Regions from separate parts of the Homo sapiens genome. Here region 1 is linked to region 2. The links come from fine-mapping of genetic effects on gene expression. A gene starts in region 2. The other region holds a variant in brackets. All regions are shown on one strand. Distances are from middle to middle.

Region 1 (9,761 bases), 20 kb before region 2:
TGCAAAAACTGCAATTACTTTTGCACCAACCTAATAGAACCAGCTGCTGTTCATTAAAATCAGCAAATTAGACTGGGCGTGAAGGCTCACACCTGTAATGTCAGCACTTTGGGAGGCTGAGGTGGGAGGATCACTTGAGGCCAGGAGTTCAAGACTAGCCTGGGCAACATAGTGAGAATCTGCTTCTACAAAAAATAAAAAAAAATAGCTGAGGATGGTGGTGTGCAGCTGTAGTCATAGCTACTCAGGAGGCTGGGGCAGAGGGATTGCCTGAGCCCAGGAGTTTGAGGTTATAGTGAGCTAGGATGGCACCATTGCACTCCAGCCTGGGTGACAGAGGGAGATCCTATCTCTTAAAAAAAAATCAGCAAATTAACTGGTAGAGCTTATACTAATGTTTTACTCTTGGTCTGTTGATTTAATTAATGGTTGCTATCTTTATAAGAATTTTAGCATGCCAAAAGGGTGTTAAAACGCCCCACAAAAGTAAACCAAGTGTAGTTTACTAGTTATGATCTTTAAATACCTAAGGGTATGTTAACAGGCATTTTTACACCACAGACTTTGACCCTGTTAAAATAGCAAAGCATGTGAGAGCAAGGGGGAGCCTTTCCAAATGAGAGTATTTCCAAAAGCAATGTTCAGAAATTAAGTTCTTCACAGATTCGTGGAAACAAAAACATTATGTAATGAAGAACAGAAGCCATGCGTACCCTAAATTCAGAGAGTTTCTGTGGTACTTGGGATTACTGCAAGAACTTTTAGAATAGGCCTAAGGAAGTTCTAGACTAGTGTTTCATGGAGCCCATTCTTTTAAATTAAAAGTAGCCATTTAAAAAAATTAAAGTCCCAGAAAATGACCATTAGAATATGCAATTTAAAAATAGCAAATAAAACAAACTAAGGTTTTTTTGAACAGATATATAGAAACAAAATTTCACTTAGTTTACAATATAAACATGCATTTCACATTAGCATTAAAATGCTATTGTGATTTATCTCTCTTTCAAATACTATTGCCTCTACTTACACAATCATATTTGTCCTTTCGCCACAATCTGCCTATTTCAGCAAACTGCATCAGCATTCCCTTTAAGTTTCCCAATGCTAAAGCTGCCAGGACGGACTGTGAAAAACACAAACATCAGATGTACTTTAAGTTAATGAAATAAACCACAGGGAAGCAAAGGTGAAGGCTATAGATAAGTGTGTGCTTTAAAGGGCCTCAAAGCAAATCAAAGCATTACACCCTTTTCCGGTGTGCGATGCCACGCAAGACACACCAGAACTGGGACTCTGACCTGTTCCTATGAATGACTTTGTCCCCACAACAGTGACAAGGCCTAGGCTGCTCTTGTGATTATGAGATAGATGATCTGATGGCGTTTAGTAGCCTGCACCTTGGGACAGAGAAAGGCAGACCTTCAGACCTATGACAGACTAACATTTGGAATAAATTCCTCCCAAGCAGAGACAGTCTAATGTGTGTTTGTTTATTGGAGTCAAGGAGATGGGGGTTGCTCTTTGTTAAAAAAAAAAATAGCTTGGGAAGCTTGAGGTCCTGGAATGAGATGACTTGAGGCGGGCTTTCTGGGACAGCATGAAACATATCTATCTAGTTCCTGCTATATCCCCAGAACCTACTATGTTAAATGCATACAGGAGGGGCTTTAAAATTAGTCAGTGAATGAGTGGCTGAGCCAATGAATGAATATTTCCCAGGCCAGTACTAATCCCTACAGCCAAGCTTCAGACTTCCAATTCTTCCACAGCCAGAATGTGATCTTTTATCTTGCAGGAATTGTGATAGTTAAGGTGAAAAATGCTGAATAGCTAAGTATATTCTCTTCATTCTTTGGATTTTATCGTAATTGTAGGAACATGCCCCTCACCGTCCTGTTCCCCCTGCCAATTTATTTTATTCTGAATGGAGTATGGAATTTGTATACTGCTATACCATGAAAACACAGTGTACAAAGAAAAGCCAAATACAGTTTTTATTTTTATATCTTGAGGACAGTTGAACTGATCTGCCTATTTCTAATTTTCACAGGTAATCCTTATAATATAATATCTAAGCAATTAATTTTACTAACTGTGAGAATAGAGGTCACAGTTTAGAAGAAATATGGTCTTAAGTGACTTTTAAAAAATTTGGCACACAAGTGAATGCCAGTTAAAAAATGGTGAAAATTGAATAAAGTCTGTAATCTACTTAACATACTATACTAATGTATAGTACTGATATTGTACTACAGCTGTGTAAGATGTCACCATTGTGGTAGCTAGGCAAAGAAGTCAGAGGACTGTACAACGGGCCTCTCCATTTTGCAGGACTTTTAATTCTCTAAGTATAAAATATGTCAAGAGACACCTGTGCGAAGAGACTTTTTTTTTCCATTGGGCATTATTTCCCACCTAGTCAGTATTCTACGGAAAAACAATTTGAAGTAATTTACGATGACATACATATACAACAGATTACTTTTAAAGTAAAGATTACAGAGCATTAAGAAATCATAGAAAGGAAAGGGGGATAATTTCCGCAGTAATCTGGTATCCATACTGCATTTGATATAAAGGATTAAATGAAGAGAAAACGCTTAGAGCTCTGCTGACATGCAGTGAGCACTCAATAAATACCTATTATGAGCTTTTATTATGGGTTATTTTGCCTTCATATGATAAAAAGAAGCAAATAGTTATTTGGGTGTTTGAAACAAAGACATTCCTGACCACAATGGCCTAAAAAGAACATATCACAGGACCCTTTATAAAAGGGGCTTTGATTAAATCTTGGACAAGATTTGGTAATTATTTCTTTAGTGTCTCCAAATTGATGTGGGCTAGGTAGAACTCAAGTTTACACCCGGGGAGAAGCATGAGAGGGTGGAGTTCTCTCTGTAGGGGTGAGTGTGTGTGCGTTTATTTTTATTGAGATAACATTCTTCTATTTCTTTAGTGGTGACTTTTTCATTCCTTTTATGCCACTTATTTTGAAATCAGAAGTATAGCCTATGGAGAATGCATATTTTTGGCAAATTGTTCTCTGCCCTGCTTGAAGATGGATTTGGCCATTGAGCTTTTTGAGATGACCACACTGGGAGTCCAGCAACCTGGGACCACAGTCACCGTTCGGCTACCAACCAACAAGGAAAAAAGGCCTAGGTAACAGCCAATAGACATTTGTGGGCTGTATCATATCTCTATGTCTTTTATAGCCAGGAGTGTAATACAATGTAGAATAATAATATTATTAACAATAATGACTATCATTTATCAAGTATTTATCATATGCCAAACCCTCAGCTAAGTAGTTCACATACATGATCTTATTTATTTTTATAGTCACTCTGTGTAGTGGGTATTATTTCCCTTTCTATTTTACAAATGTGGCGCTTGAGGTTCAGCAAGGTTAAGTAATTTGCCCAAAATCACACAGATAATAAGTAGCAGAGCCAGGATTAGAAGGAGGTCAACAGGGCTCCATGTACCACCTCAAAATTATATTAAAACCACAAGGAACAATGTATTTACTGTCATCTTGTTTCCTAGAGAGCCTTTGCTTTCCAGGGTCTGATGGTATGTTTTATATCTGAGTGCTGCAGCAGTTTACAAAGTATTAAACTAAACCCTCAAGCTTATAGGCAGAGGAGCATGAGAGTAGGGCTGGGAGGTCTGTGCTGGCTGTTCACTCCCATCCCACAATCCAACAGTGTTG[G/C]TCTTGGAGTTAAACCAAAGTTCTAGAAGCTTCAGGGTGTGTTCCTAAGAACGAGTTGTGTGGCTGGTAGGGCCATTCTCTGAATTAGATAGAGGGCCTGATTACCTTAACCTTTAAGAAAACCTCTACTCAGTCCATGCGTGTTGAAAGTGTGGTGCCAGGGTGCCCTCCTATTTCAACATTAATTCTATTTGGGGCTATGCACATGCAAAGTGTAGAGGAGATAAGGCAGGTTGGGCACCTGTGTTCCTAACATTCAGAACATGTTGCCAGGGAAAAAGAAATATTTTTGGCTCATACAGAGTATTGGCTAAGAAGAGTACTTGAGAGTTTGTCATTACCTCATTTCCCCTAGTTTAGTTTGTGCTTTCAGAATTTAAGAACCGGGGTCCTTGATTTACCACTAAAAGTAGAGATGCTATCCAAAGACAGTGTTACCTTTTGTAGAGGCGCCAGGAGAAATCCAATGGCTAGAACGACAATCAGCACGATGATGGCACCAATAAGCCCAGCAATCTGTGAGGATAAAAAAATTATCATCACCAACTCAACTTTTCCCCTGGCTTGAATTTCCTAGTTACTAACGCTAGGACAGTGCTTGCAGCAAAGATCTTGACATACCTGTGTTTTGCCTCCTGTGCTCTCCTGAACTGCTGATCTGGAGAGGGCAGTACTCCCAGCAAATCCTCTGAATACTCCACAGACTATGTTACCCAGTCCCAAGGCTATTAACTCCTGACAGGAAGACAAGAATGAACCTTTTTCAGAAGTGGCACCATTGATATTATGTGTGCAAAATATTATTTAAAGTTGCCCAGTGAGACCCAGTGTAGTTTGTTTACTTACCTGATTGCCATCAAGTGGATAATCGTATTTGAGGGAATAGACGCTGGCAACTGAAAAGGCCACTGCAAATGCAACCATTGCGATGCCGAAGCAATCTCCTACGGTGTTTTGGAAAGTCTCCACGTCAGGTGTAATAGGGGGCTGAAATCTAAAATTGAAATTAAGCAAGTCTGAATGTCACCAACCAATTTATAAACTGATATAACCATTGGGCAAATCAATGAATGAATGCAATCTAGGCTGAGTTGTGTCTCACTTTGGAGTATGATTAACGAGAATTTAGCTCCACTAACAATTTTGCAATCTGCTTTCTTAATGCTGAAAAGCAACACTGCCTGAATTTGGTAAAAGACTGCAAATTCAATCCAAGGATAGTGGTAAATCAGATATGATTTTGCCAGTAAAACCACACTATAATGTGCGTGTGTATTCTTATAAGCTTCCTGCAAAATGTCTTCTATTCCACTTGTATTGTTACACTGGGCTGCAAAGCATCACTCAAAATGCTCCCAATAGTTATCCATACATGAAGTCCTTTGAGCAAACACAATTGTGAGACAAGGAAAGCAAAAAAGTCTTCTTTCCATTGATAATAATAACCTTTCATGGAAAACTCCTGGCAAAGAGATGGGCCTTGGACTCTGCCCTGCACTTCACAGAAATGCTAGAGACAACCATGACCCTAATGGAGAGTGGATTTCTCTTTAAGGTGATATATGTCAGAGAAACCTTCAACTCACAGGGCGTACTTCTGTGCTTAAGCCTCATGAATGTAGACCAGTTCAATTATATTTACTAATTGTATCATAAAAGGTGCATGTATCTTAAACTCAACATCAATTTACTAAAATGTTCCACTCCTATAAGCATATATTTCTGACATCAGACTTATTGGAAGTGGGTTAATTAGGTCCAATCAACTCTTTCTGAATTGCTGTTCCACATTTTGTGAATATCTATGGTAATACATTTTTATCTCTAATTTTGAAGAAGTACTATTATACCATAATTTTGAAGAAGTACTATTATATCTGATGCCATTATAAATCCAAAAGTTAGCTTGGAATGTTTTTGTTTTTTAATAACCAGGATCTTATTATTCTTTTGTTCTGGTCTCTGAACACCATAGACAGAATGATGTGATGAAGATTTACAGTCTAAAGACTTGGGTTCATTTCCTGGCTCTGCCACTTGCCCTTCCCAAGTCACAATTTCCTCATTTGTAGAGTGAGGATAATAAAACTTGTTCTCTGTTTTTTTGAGATGGGGTCTCCTCTTTCCCAGGCTGGAGTGCACAGCTCACTGCAACCTCCACTGTCCAGGCTCAAGAGATCTCCCCACCTCAGCCTCCCAAGTAGCTGGGACTACAGGTGTGTGCCACCACGCCCAGCTAATTTTAGTATTTTTAGTAGAGACAGGGTTTTGCCATGTTGGCCAGGATGGTCTCGAACTCCTGACCACAAGTGATTCACCCGCCTCGACCTCCCAACGTGCTGAGATTACAGACGTGAGCCATGGCGCCCGTCCTTGTTCTCTTTTCTTCACAGTTTAGTGGGAGGGTCAAATAATAAATGCAAATACTATTTACACACTGTAAAACACAAAGTGCCTGTTAGCTATTATTATAGGATCCCTCTGGAATCTGAATATACTCCTTGTGTTTCCTTTACTGTTTCAATGAGCACTTTTCTTCAGCCAAATTATTTGTATTTAGTGTATGAGACTTTGCAAAATAACTACTAAGGTGGCATAGTCATGAACAGTAGGTTAGCAATAATTAATAATCACTACCTTCCAGTTATAGTCTATTTGCAATCAACAAAAACTTAAAATACCTACTCAATCATCACCCAGAAAAAAAAATGGAGCATAAAAAGCTCAAGTGCTTGCTACCTAATTTAGGTGTTAAACTAGTTAACAATAGTAGTGTAATTTGAACATTTATTGTAAGTCAGGCACTTAAGCATGTTACATGTATTAACTCACTCAACTCTTAAAAGAATCCTACTTGATAGCTATTATTTTTAGCCTCATATTTACAGCCAAGAACATTGAGGCACAGAGTTTTTGGTAATGTGCTCAAGCTCAAAAAGTGAGTCAGAATCAAATCTCAGGTACTCTGCCTCTAGAACACTGGAGCTTACCTACTAGGTTACACTGCCACTCTATTGAACGTAATGGTTACCCGTTGCCACACCCTACACACTGTGGAGAGAGGTACACTGACATTGAAAATACATTCACTAAATAAGACTGTTGTTGAGGTATTTAAGGTGTAACTCAGTGATCTTAAGTTTATCTTTTATTTTCCAAGCCCTTCTGACAAGATCCTGTTTGGTTTTGCAAGTATTCATTTTTTCTATTTGGTTTATGTCTCCCAAGACATTTAAGTAAAGTGAAATCACTTCAAAGTGGCAGAATAGAAGGAAACCCTAGAAACAGTCTTTCAGTTTCAGCCTAATTTCCACTTTAAAACTTTAAAAATTAAAAGTGATGCTTGAGATTCGTGAAATGTAACACACGAAGATCTGGTAATAAAAAAAATGTTTTTTCTTTAAAAAAATAAAAAGTACATATATTTGCCTTTAAAAGAATTTGGCTGTTTTAAAGTAAAAAAAATACATATAAATGCTGATTTCTCGAATTCTCAAATATTTCTTAAGCATAGAGAGGGAGAGAAGTCTTTTAAAAAAACAAAACAAAACAAAACAAAACAGGAAAACACCTTTTCCTTGGTAAGTTGGAAGAAACTGATTCTGTGGTTAGAAGAAACAACACAAAATGATCTTCCTTCTCAATCCACTGAATGTAATGAAATACATTTTAAAATTCTTGTACAAACTGGACTTCTCATCCTTTTGCAGTGGGAAAAGTTGCTCTGCCCTTGTTTTGAATCTGATCGGGAGAAAGGACAGAGTGTGCCTATCTGGACTGCTCACGTGGAGTGCCTGTGTTCCTTCAGTGTCTTCTTTGAACTTTCAGAACTTGGCTCCAGTAACTTCAAACAAAGCATTACATATTGTTTATAGTAATTTATGGACAAGGAAATCTGGTTTCACTTGATGTTTCTTTAAGAGGAGAAGCAGTTTACTTTGCCTATTTTTCTTTATGGTATTATTTATATATTTTTAAAAAAACAAGAGATGGGGGTCTTGCTGTGTTGCCCAGACTGGTCTTGAACTCCCGGGCTCAAGTGATCCTCTCACCTTGGCCTCTCAAATTGCTGGGATTTCAGGCATGAGCCACCGGGTCTGGCCTTACTTTGCTTATTTTTAGACTTTCACTACTTTGCTAACTTTTACTTTCCTGTGAGTTTCTACTGGTCTGTGTCCCTGCTTGTCTTGTTTGTGAGTTCTTCCACAAGGAGAAGCCTTCTGATATTAAGAACTGCATTCACTGTGGGGAGGCGAAAAAAAAAAAAAAAGAACTGCACACCCTGCCTTTCTTTGTAGCACCTTCCTAGAAGGAAAGCAGTGAGCCTTCCTTAGGGATGCAGGGTGCAGGGAGGATTCTGATGAGGGTTACCTGCAGGCTGAACTGCAGTTCGGATTGTACCTCTCCTGTCACTACTGCTAACTCTCTGCTTAGTGCATGGTGATGCCATCATCGAAGACACACTTACCCAGGATTCATGTCCCCAACCACAGCCACTTTAAACCTGTTTTTAAAGTCACAGCCGTAGGATACACCTGCTGCAATCACGGTCTGCAAAGTTGCAAATGGCCCAAGTTAGAAATGTGAGATGCAAGTAAGAGTCTTGCTTTGAAGAAAAATAAATTGCCAAAACCCACTTCTGTACCTGTTAAGTAAGAACTCCAGCCCAGGCTTTGTTACTTTTTAAGAAATTCGGAGGCAATTCTAACATGCCGCCAGGATTGAGAACCACAGCTAAATTCAAATGGCTCTAACACGACATTTTGTCAAGGGTCTTGCTCTCTGCACTATCCTTGTCTCACGTGGAAAAAATTAACTCAAAATCATAAGAGGAAGTTATTAAATTCTGAATGAAAATAAAACCATGCTAAACATTATGCCCGAAAACTGCAGAGATGGCCTCTGCCCCACTAAAACTTCCTGAGCTACAAATGGTGAAGGACTTACAACATATAAACAGTAGAGTAGCTATGACAGAGTCTGAAAATGATCAATTACCATAATGAATTCGATTGGAATGGGCACTGGAAGTTTGTCTTTGAAGCGCTGATTTATTTCTTTAACAATGGATACAACCAAAAGGACAATCAGAGCTGTCACCAGGTCTGCAATATTAGTCTTCTCTATTTGTGAGAATACAGAGTATAGTACCTACAATTATAAAAACAAAAACCACCAAAGCCCTATATTAATGCACAATTTGGATACAACGCATCTCCAAACAAATAAAAATAAACATGGAAGCAAAAAGACTGATAGAGACTGATAGTGATTTCCTGTATTGCCCCGGTTTAATTGTGAATGTGAAATTGTAGAGAGTAGCGATGGAGATATGAGAAGAGTAAGTTAGCATAGTGTAGGTGGCACACTAGTTTAAGAATGCTTCTGGCATTTTTGCTGGGAATCTCTTTGGCTAGTGTCAAATTTTGTTGGATACTTTTCACATTTTTACCACTGGTCTTCTGCCCTTATTAGGTCTCTTTGGTCGTCATTTTTTATTTCACAGCCATCACTACTCTGTCCAGGGAATAACTTCTGATCTTTGATAGTTTTGCTTAGTATGCTCAATTCCTGGCCCTCTTGGGGGGTTTACACCCCCTCATATTTCTTAGCTGACTCTCTATGTCACTTTTGGAAAATAGTTTTCTGGCTAACTGTGCACTATGCATGTGCACATACTTCTTGAAGCTAGTTGGGTTCCATATCCACTTACCCCAAAAAGCTCAAGCAGGCCAAAACTGGATCCCAAATTGCTTCTAGAACACTCCACTTTTGGAATACCTCTGGATGAAAGAGAGTGTTGGTTCCAATTTGGAGCAAGTTCTGTCTCAACTCCCAAAAACTTTTGGGAGTCGTTAAAAATCAAACACATCTACCATCGAGCTAATGTTAACAACAAAAATTAAGTAACACTTCTCCTATATTTGACTCAAGTATTTTCAAAAAAATAATCTATGTTATTAAAAGCTTTACCATTTTGTCCCAAGTTTTAAAACTAAGAACACTATCTGTTCTACTTTGCATCCTCTGGAGGAGGGGA
Region 2 (9,761 bases):
AGTTCAGTTTCTCAGTTTAACTATTCCCATGTATTAATAACTTTTTGATATTTCTAGGGATTGTCATGTACATACCTCCCCACCACTTCAAGTTCCACCCATTTCCAACCTGCAGACTGGCCTCCAGTTACGAGAACCTCCACTCTGCCTGCCCCGCTCTGCTGAGAAGTGTCTTTTGGCCCTGACCTTTCCACTCAGTGTTTATCTATTCTGTGTTTTAGTCTTTCAGAGGTCTGCCCTTTTTGCTGGGAAACAACTAATTTGAACCAAGATGCTGATGAGCGGTGCTAGGATTTGTCTTTAATTAGCGGTCATTTGAAACCAGCAGACAAGCAAGGGTGCAGAACACTTCCCAGCCCCTCCGCAGTCACATTAGATGCCTCCACTCTTGGACAAGGCAGCTCCTAGCAGCATCACCCCTTCATAGCTGTTCAAGCTGAGGAAGGCCTTCGATAGAGACATCACTGAAAATGCCACACTGTGCCTGAAATCTGCTGAAAACACAACTCACCTCATGGATCTCAAAATATCTCTGAGCCAGTCAGTGCAAAACCAGAGGTAAGCCAGCCCTATTTCATGAATTAGTCCTTGGACAATGGGAAATACAGCAGCGTCCTGATAACTATACTTGGGGGAGTGGGTGAGAGATGGGGGAACAAGCAGAATAATTGCTCCAGTGAGCACCTTCAGAGGGATCTCCATCGGCAGCCAGAGGAATCAGAAATCAAGCTCACAAAAAGCTCCACATTCTGGTTAGCGTGAGGCTGGATAGAAGCAGGGAGATGATGGCATCAGAATGGGAGAGGGCTGGAGTGGTGAATGGAGGGGAGGGGTCTCAGCACTGAGGTTGATTAAGAGAGCTCAGAAGGGGTCAAAGGCTGAGGTGGGCAATAATTGTTACTACTATTTTTCATCAATTCTATTACTACATTGCCGAAGATGCTGAAGAAGGAAGTCAAACCTAAATTAATCGGGAGGTACAACAGAAAAGAGTGAGACTTTGGCAACTAAGCACACCAGGTTTCAAATCCTTGCCTTGCCATATCTTAACTATGTTTGCTATAAGCCAGTGATTCAAGCCATCAATTTTCTTTTCTTTTCTTTTCTTTTTTTGAGACAGAGTCTTGCTCTGTCGCCCAGGGTGGAGGCTGGAGTGCAGTGGCGCGATTTCATTTCACTGCAAACTCCACCTTCTGGGTTCAAGTGATTCTCTTGCTTCAGCCTCCCGAGTAGCTGGGACTACAGGCACCCGTTACCATGCCCAGCTAAGTTTTTATATTTTTAGTAGAGATGGAGTTTCGCCATGTTGGCCAGGCTGGTCTCGAACTCCTGGCCTCAAGTGGTCTGCCTGCCTTGGCCTCCCAAAATGCTGGGATTACAGGCGTGAGCACCCGGCCCAAGGCTTCAATTTCCTTAAAGCAAAAGGAGGAGACCATTATTTTCCTTCTAGGGCTGTTCTTAAAACTGAAAGCAGGGTATACAAAGGGAGACTTCTTAGCCTTAAGTTCATAGGTAGCAGTCTCAGAAGTGAGTTAAATATTGACTGTTGGTGGAATTTACAACTGGTCCACAAAAGTCAGCTGGAACCTGTTGGAAAATGTTAGTGCTGCCAACTTTTCTATGACTTTATGTTTACTCTGAGCTTATCTTTAGAAGTAGCAGTTTTCCATTTTTATCCCAGTTTGTTTTAACATAGTTTTAAAATAATCTAGCTATCCGAGCTTCCTAGAATGACATACAAGGTCCTTCATGTTTTGGCTCTGGTCTATCTCACAAGCTTCTTCACTCCTCCTTCACAATTGCAGCAGGTTCCTAACACGCTATGATATTTAACAGTTCCGTATCTCTGTACACATGATTTCCTTTGTGTTCTTCTTCTCCAATACCTGGTAGATTCCAATTCATTCTTAAAAATACTCAGCACAGCTGGGTGCAGTGGCTCATGCCTGTAATTTTGGCACGTTGGGAGACTGAAGTGGGGAGATTGCTTGAGGCCAGGAGTTCAAGACCAGCCTGGCCAATATAAAGAAACCCTGTCTCTAAAACAAACAAACAAACAAAACACAACTCAGCTGACCATTGATTCATTTCTTCATTCCTTCAACAAACATGTATCAGCCTATTATTTGTCAGGAACTCAGTTCCTAACACAGTTGTAGAAGATAAGAAAATGATGTAAAGCCTTCATGGAATCCCTAGATAGAGTTGATCATTTCCTTCTTGTAAGTACCTTGTATATATGTCTATTCCATGTCATACATTATTTGTTTATGTTTCTGTTCCCTTTAAGACTGAGTTTCCCAAGGGCAAGGCCCAAATCTTAACCATTTTTCCCTCTTTTGTTAGGTCCTATGACATAGTAAGTATACAAGAAAGTTTGTTGAAATAAACTGAACTATGAGCAAAAGATATATAAATGACGTAGACCTAAACTCCAAAGTTTACATACACAGGAGAAGTGCCCAAAATAATTGGTGCAGATAATAAATTGGAAGAAGGGATGTAAATGTGGGTTGGAGTTAGGAAGGTTTTGTGAAGGAACTGTGAGTCTTGTGTTAGACTTTAAAGAACAGATAGGTTTGGCAGGGGTGATGACAAAGCAGTGGGCAATAAGCAAATCATGTGAAAGGTTATTGAGAGTTCCAAACACTGAAACAGAAGGCTTTGTTGGCCCATAGGCTAAACCATTAGAGAAATGTTGGGATGCACCATAGCAAGGGATTTCACACCCAGTAGGCTCACAGCAGGCAAAAGAGAATCCCTGGCCATTTCTGTAAGGCTTTGAGATTTTCTGAGCACTTTCACTTTTCTTCCTTGAGTATTACTGTGGATGGAGGCAGACAAGATAGGCTGTATTGTCGCTAATTTACAGATGAAGAAATGGAGATGAGAGAAGATAAATGACTTTCTCAACTTCCCAGAGCCAGGATGAGAAGCCACATCTAGTGAATAACTGACTCTCTCCACTACGTCTTCTTCTCTGCTACATATTCAATGTCAGGGGTCTCAGCCCCTACCCCCAAGAGAGACAAGGTAAAAGAACAAGGTGAGGCACCATCAGGGTCCTTGCTTTTGAGCATGAAAGCCTCACACTCCTACACTCAATATCCACAACACAAAACATGAGCCTGGTGGCCTGGGGACAAATCTCCTTGAGGTGACTTGCTTTATTCTTCCCCTTGCTTCTCAACAAAGTGACACAGAGGCTAGAGGAGCCTCTTCTCTTCTCTTTGGAGAATCAAAGACCTTTATTGTAGAGAAGCACCAGACTGTGTTATTACATATTTATTCTTGTAATTGAAAAATATTCATTCTCATTTTCTGAACGATTTTGTTTCTTAGTCGAATATGAGCTGTTTAGGAGGTATTAAACATTTGTTCATTTCTTTATATACTTACTTATTCCCTTATCCAGAGGGAGAAGGCAAAGTATGTATTGTGTTACCCCATTTTTCTTGTTTCTGAAATCAAATTAGTTGCTTCCTAAATTTTCATTAGGAATAATCCTTGGCCGGATGGGGTGGCACATGCCTGTAATCCTAGCACTTTGGGAGACTGAGGTGGGAGGATCACCTGAGGTCAGGAGTTCGAGACCAGCCTGGCCAACATGGCGAAACCCCGTCTCTACTGAAAATACAAAAAAAAAAAAAAAAAAATGCCAGGCACAGTGGAGCGTGCCTGTAGTATCAGCTACTTGGGGGGCTGAGGCAGGATAATCACTTGAACCTGGGAGGCAGAGGTTGCAGTGAGCAGAGATTGTGCCACTGCACTCCAGCCTGGGCGACAGAGTGAGAATCCGTCTCAGAAAAAAAAAAAAAAAAAGGAATGATCTTTATGCAGTCAAATTTCATGACACAGTTTTTCCAAATGACTAACTTACTTCAGAAAAGAGAATTATTTAGTCCAATAATTTGATAAATTGTTCCTCACTTGCATATATAAAGAAAGTTGTATAATCTTTTCCTGACATTTTAAAGAATAAAATAGATTTTATCTTGATAGAGTTAGTAATGTATGGGATAAGTACCCATACATTACTAATGTATTATATTATATTATACTACTTGTGGCATAGGGCATTCTGCTACTTTCCAGTGACCATTTTCTCCCCATCTCTCTTCTCTTTCCAGTCTCTATCCTTCTTACTCTCATTGCCTTTTCTTCTCTCCGTGTTTCCCTTAGTCTTGGACTTTCTAGGATGTCTAGCAGATAAATCTCTCACTTCTAGACCATATGTCCCCTACCCCCTCCCTTTTTTTTTAAGAGACAAGGTCTTGCCATGTTGCCTAGGCTGACCTCAAACTCTTGGGCTAAGCTATCCTCCTGCTTTAGCCTCTTGAGTAGCTAGGACTATAGATACATATCCCTATGCCTGGCTGGGACCAGATGGCCTTTCTGAATCCTTTCTAGTAGGTGATTCTCTCTCCTGGAGAAACTCTTTCCTTAAAGCTTGCTTTTTTTTTTTTTTTTTTTGCCAACCCTCAGAGCAGACAATCTATCTATAAAGTCAGATTTGAGTGGAGAATTAAAGGAATTATCTGAATAATTAAAACAAGAACACTAATATCTTTGAAAAGGCTATTTAAGACTTAATGATGCCTACAACCATTTACTTGTTAAAGTCTACTTAAATATTTATTCTACATTGCTAGCGCTCCAGACATACATGCATATCTTATTAGTGGATTCATTCAAAATATTCACACACATGGAATAAACTCAAGAACATAATAACTCCTAAATAGGCTTTGATCAGAAAAAATACCATTTTCAAGGAACAGAAAACCAGTTTGAATATAACAATCATAAATTTGGTTCCTACCTGACACATACTCTGTGAGGAGCTTCTGCAACAGTGGTACATTTTCAAGATAAAGTTCTAAGTTCTAGTTCTAAGAGGCAGTGTCCATCCACTCAGGTCTACAGGCTCTGTGTGCATCCATATGCATAGGGATGTCTATATATAGGCTATGTAAGACAGTGGACAAATTACCTTTCTGTCAGCTTTAATAATTAACTCTCATTAACTTTTACAACAATGAAAAGACTGCAATGTGGTCTTGACCTTTGAGACTTTGATCAGCAGAAGTGATGATGAAGATTGCTTCCTCAAGTTCCTTGTGAGATTAAACCACCAGTGGGTGGTTTAATGCACTTGTGTGTACGTAATTTCATTGGTTTGCAGAGATTGCACAGCAGATGCTCACGTGTACTTAAAAAAAAAAAGAATCTTCTCAAGGGTTATCTCCTTGACATTTCACCAACCTGTTTAGATGAGAGTTTAGTGGTGGTGTTTTTTGGCTGGATGACTCCATGGAATCTGTCATGGGCTGCAGAAGTGTGGTGTATAGGTTAACTCCTGGTATGATAAAGGCCCTCATTAGGAACACTCACCCAACTCCCAGCCACAGGCCATATCTGCATTCCAATTTCTGCCCCCACCACAGCTCTTCCTAAGAGCAATAAACCCTATGTTGCTAAACACAATGAATACTTTCAACTCTCATCTTACTTAAAAGCATTTGGCATTGCTGACTACACTTTCATGAACTCCTCTTTTTATTTTAAAAATTATTTAACTAATTAGTTAATTTTAGAGATGGGGTATTGCTGTGTTGCCCGGGCTGGTCTCAAACTCCTGGCCTGAAGTGATCCTCCTGCTTTAACCTCCTGAGTAGCTGGGATTAGAGGCCTCAGCCATCATGCCGGGCTAAAATCTTCTCTTCTTGAAATGCTAAAAAAAAATTTTTAACACACTTGTTTTTCACCTCATCCTTTTTGCCAATTTCTCCTCTAACTCTTTCTTTGGCATTTCCTAAGATTCTGTTCTGAATTTCCTTCTCCTCTCTTGCTACCCTCTTACCCTAAATAAGAGTCCTATGGCTCCCAGCAACATTCAGATTTCTAACCCCAGCTCTCTAGGTCCACATATTTAACTGCCTATTCCACATCTTTGCTTGGATGCCTCATAGGCATCTCAAACACGACACATATCGAGATTAAGACCTCTTGATCTTTCCTCCCAAATCTGCTCCATCTCTAGTCTTCCCCATTTCAGTAAAGAATATTCCCCTTTACTCATGTCAGAGACCTGGGAACCATCTCTGACACTTCTTCTTGCAGACCTTCTCCCCACCCGCAGCCAATCCATCCTTAAACCCTATTGAGCATGCCTCCAAAATACATCCCAAAGCCATCACTTTTCTTCATCTTCACTCTTACCTTTGCTGCACTTCTTGCTTCCTCTCGCAGCCCTCCCCATCTCTTTACCACTCATTAATCAGAATGATCTTTTCACACTAGTCCTCTTTGTGGGGCTGATGATTACACAGAGGGAAAACAGGCCTCCAAAGTCTTTGCATGATCTCCCCCTGCACAACTCTCCAACCTCATCTGACTCTGCTCTTACTTTTGTTTTCTCCACTCCCACCATGGTGGCCTCCTGTAGTCCCAAATTTGCCCACTCTTTGCAGACATCATTTTCTCTGCTTAAATGCACTTCTCTCTCTCTCTCGGTTTGGCTGTTACTTAGCTTCAACATCACTTTCTCAAGGAGAACCACTTTGACTTCCTAATCTCAATTAGCCCCTCTTGTGGCATTCTCTCAGAGTATTTTTTTAAGTCCCTTGGTTAATTTGCATGTACTTTTTAAAACATAGCATCATAATTTAAAAATACACAATTATTTACTTGGCTAATGTTTGGCTTTCTCATTAGAATGAAAGCCCCACACAGGCAGGGACTTTGGCGAATTCACTGCTGTATGCCCAGTACCTAGAATGAATCTACCACAGAACAATGACTCAATAAATAGTGGTTCAATGACAGTTCAATCAATGAATTATGTTTGCTATAAGACAATTCCAAAAGAATGTGGACAGGTCATTAGCGTTTGTTAGAAATTAATCTAACCTGTGTTTTTAAATCTGGCTCACACCTGTGCTAACTGCGTAACTGAATGAGCTGTGGTGCCACTTATCATGCTTTTATCAACATTAGCTAACTTTAATTAGTGTTTAGTATGGGCTGTAACTTTGCAATGTGTTTTATTGGGTTTATCCCATTTAATCCTCATAACAACCATAGATAGCTTAGTATTTTTATTCCTATTTTACAAATGAATAGATTGAGTTTTCACTTGTGGTGAAATCTCAATTTTTAATTTTTATTGGCTTTTATTGAAGCCAGCTAGAATCCAGAAAGCCTAACTTTGTCATGTCTTTACTGTATAATACTGCTTTTTATAATTTTAACAGATGTACAGAATATTTATTCAGAACCACTATACACTGATTAAATTTTGTATTTAGATGTGGTTGATGGAAGAACTGGAAAATATTGCACTTAAAGGTAGAGGCTCAGAATTATTGATCAGCATAAAAATGATTTATTTTAGAACAAATAAGAGAGTATTGCAAGATTGATGGATACAAGCTGAACAAAGGCAAATTATTACACGATATATATTACATAGTGTATAGCCTTCCTATATACTAATAATAACCATGTAGTAAATGTAATAAAAAGAAAGATATCATTGGTAATAGCAACAAAAGCTACAAAGATTAGTAGAAATAAATCCTTTTTGTTTTTTATTTTTAAGAGACAAGGTCTGGTTCTGTCACTAAGGCTGGAGTATAGTGGCTCAATCATAGCTTTCCGAAACCTTGAACTCCTGGGCTCAAGTGATCCTCCTGCCTCAGCCTCCCAAGTAGCTTAGACTACAGGCACATGCCACCACACCTGGCTAATTTAATTTATTTATTTGTTTTGAGATGGAGTCTCACTCTGTTGCCCAGGCTGGGGTGCAGTGGCTCGATCTCAGCCCACTGCAACCTCTGCCTCCTGGGTTCAAGCGATTCTCCTGCCTCAGCCTCCTGAGTAGCTGGGATTACAGGCACGCACCACCACGCCTGGCTAATTTTTGTATTTTTAGTAGAAATGGGGGTTTCACCATGTTGGTCAGGCTGGTCTTGAACTCTTGATCTCGTGATCTGCCCGCCTCAGCCTCCCAAAGTGCTGGGATTACAGGAGTAAATTTTTTAATTTTAATTTTATTTTGTAGAGATGGGTTTTTTCTATGTTGTCTAGGCTGGTCTCCAACTCCTGGCCTCAAGCTATCCTGCTACCTCGACCTCCCAAAGTGCTGGGATTACAGGCGCAAGCCACTGTGCCTAGCTGGAGTAAATCTTATCTAAAGATATATAATGATGAACTTTATAGAGATAATTAGAAAACATTATTAAAGGACAAAAACAAAACCTAAGAAAAATATAGCCGGGTGCGGTGGCTCACGCCTGTAATCCCAGCATGTTGGCAGGCCGAGGTGGGCAGACCACGAGATCAGGAGATCGAGACCATCCTGGCTAACACGGTGAAACCCAGTCTCTACTAAAAAATACAAAAAATTAGCCGGGCGTGGTGGTGGCAGGCGCCTGTAGTCCCAGCTAAGCAGGAGGCTGAGGCAGGAGAATGGCGTGAACCCGGGAGGCGGAGCTTGCAGTGAGCCGAGATCGCACCTCTCCACTCCAGCCTGGGCGACAGAGCGAGACTCCGTCTCAAAAACAAAAAAAAAAAAAGAAAAAGAAAAAAAGAAAAATATGAAGCCATAAATCTTCATGAGTGTGAAAGTTCAATATCATATAGATGTTTTCTTCAAATTAATCTATTACATAAATGCTATTACAATGAAAAAGCTTTTCTTTTTTTTTTTTCATAGAACTGGACAAACTTGGCCTAAAACTTGTATGGAAGAACAAAGGGCCAAGAAAAGTCAAGACGTCAAGACAATTTTTGAAATTGATGCATAATAATTGTATATATTTATGGGATATATGTGATATTTTGATATATGCATACAATGTGTAATGATCAAATCAGGGTAATAATGATATCTATCACCTCAAACATTTATCATTTCTCTGTTTTGGGAACATTCCAAATTTTCTCTTCTAGCTATTTTGAACTATACAATAATTTATTGTTAACTACAGCCACCCTACTGTGTTATGAAACACTAGAACTTATCCCTTCCATCTAACTGCACGTTTGTATCCATTAATCAACAGCTCTCCATCCCCACTCCCTGCTACTTTTCCCAGCCTGTGGGTAGCCATCTTTCTACTTTCTCTCTCTATGAGATCCACTTTTTTGGCTCCCACGTATTAGTGAGAACATGCAACATTTGTTGACAACTTTGAAGAAGAAAAAATGGGGAAACATTTTGCAGATATAAAGACTTATTATCAAGCTATAGTAATTATGGCAGTTATATGTTTGTGCTGTGGGAAATAAATATACCAATGGAACAGGACAGAAAGCCTAGAAACATGTATTGAAACTTGATATATAATAGAGGTTACGTGGCATTAGAGAAAAGATGGACTATTCAATAAATGGTGCTGAGACAACTGGCTATCCATGTAGAACAAATAAAATTTAGATCTCTATTTCACAGCAATCACACACACATTTTTTCAATTGACCAAAGGCCTAAATAGAAAAGGTAAAATTTTAAACTTTTAGAAGAAAAAGTATGCTGTTATAACCTTGGAATAAAAGTATTTCTTCAACAAGTCACATAAATGTGCATATCATAAAGGAAACGACTGACAAATCCATCTTTATTAAAATTAAAACATGGAAGACACCACAACAAAAGTGAAGACAAGCTCTAGACTGAACAAGGTATTTGCCCAGTTAAGTCTTAGAAAAGATTAATATCCAGAAGATATCAAGAACTCCTACAAATCAATAAACAA

The links.
Region 1: its variant is fine-mapped to the expression of SLC26A3 in testis (GTEx, PIP 0.93).

The regions. Positions count from the first base shown.
Region 1 is chr7:107,778,638-107,788,398 of GRCh38, forward strand. SLC26A3 (solute carrier family 26 member 3) reads right to left here. Exons shown (of 21, transcript NM_000111.3): 7 at 8,720-8,872; 8 at 8,190-8,272; 9 at 4,568-4,715; 10 at 4,343-4,456; 11 at 4,160-4,237; 12 at 1,031-1,126. Among named protein-coding and RNA genes, the nearest start is that of SLC26A3, 20 kb to the right of the region's middle. RefSeq lists an enhancer at 1,165-1,309 and a cis regulatory region at 1,226-1,249. The variant G/C (reference allele first, on the strand shown) is at 3,722.
Region 2 is chr7:107,798,289-107,808,049 of GRCh38, forward strand. SLC26A3 (solute carrier family 26 member 3) reads right to left here and starts at 4,935. Exons shown (of 21, transcript NM_000111.3): 1 at 4,823-4,935.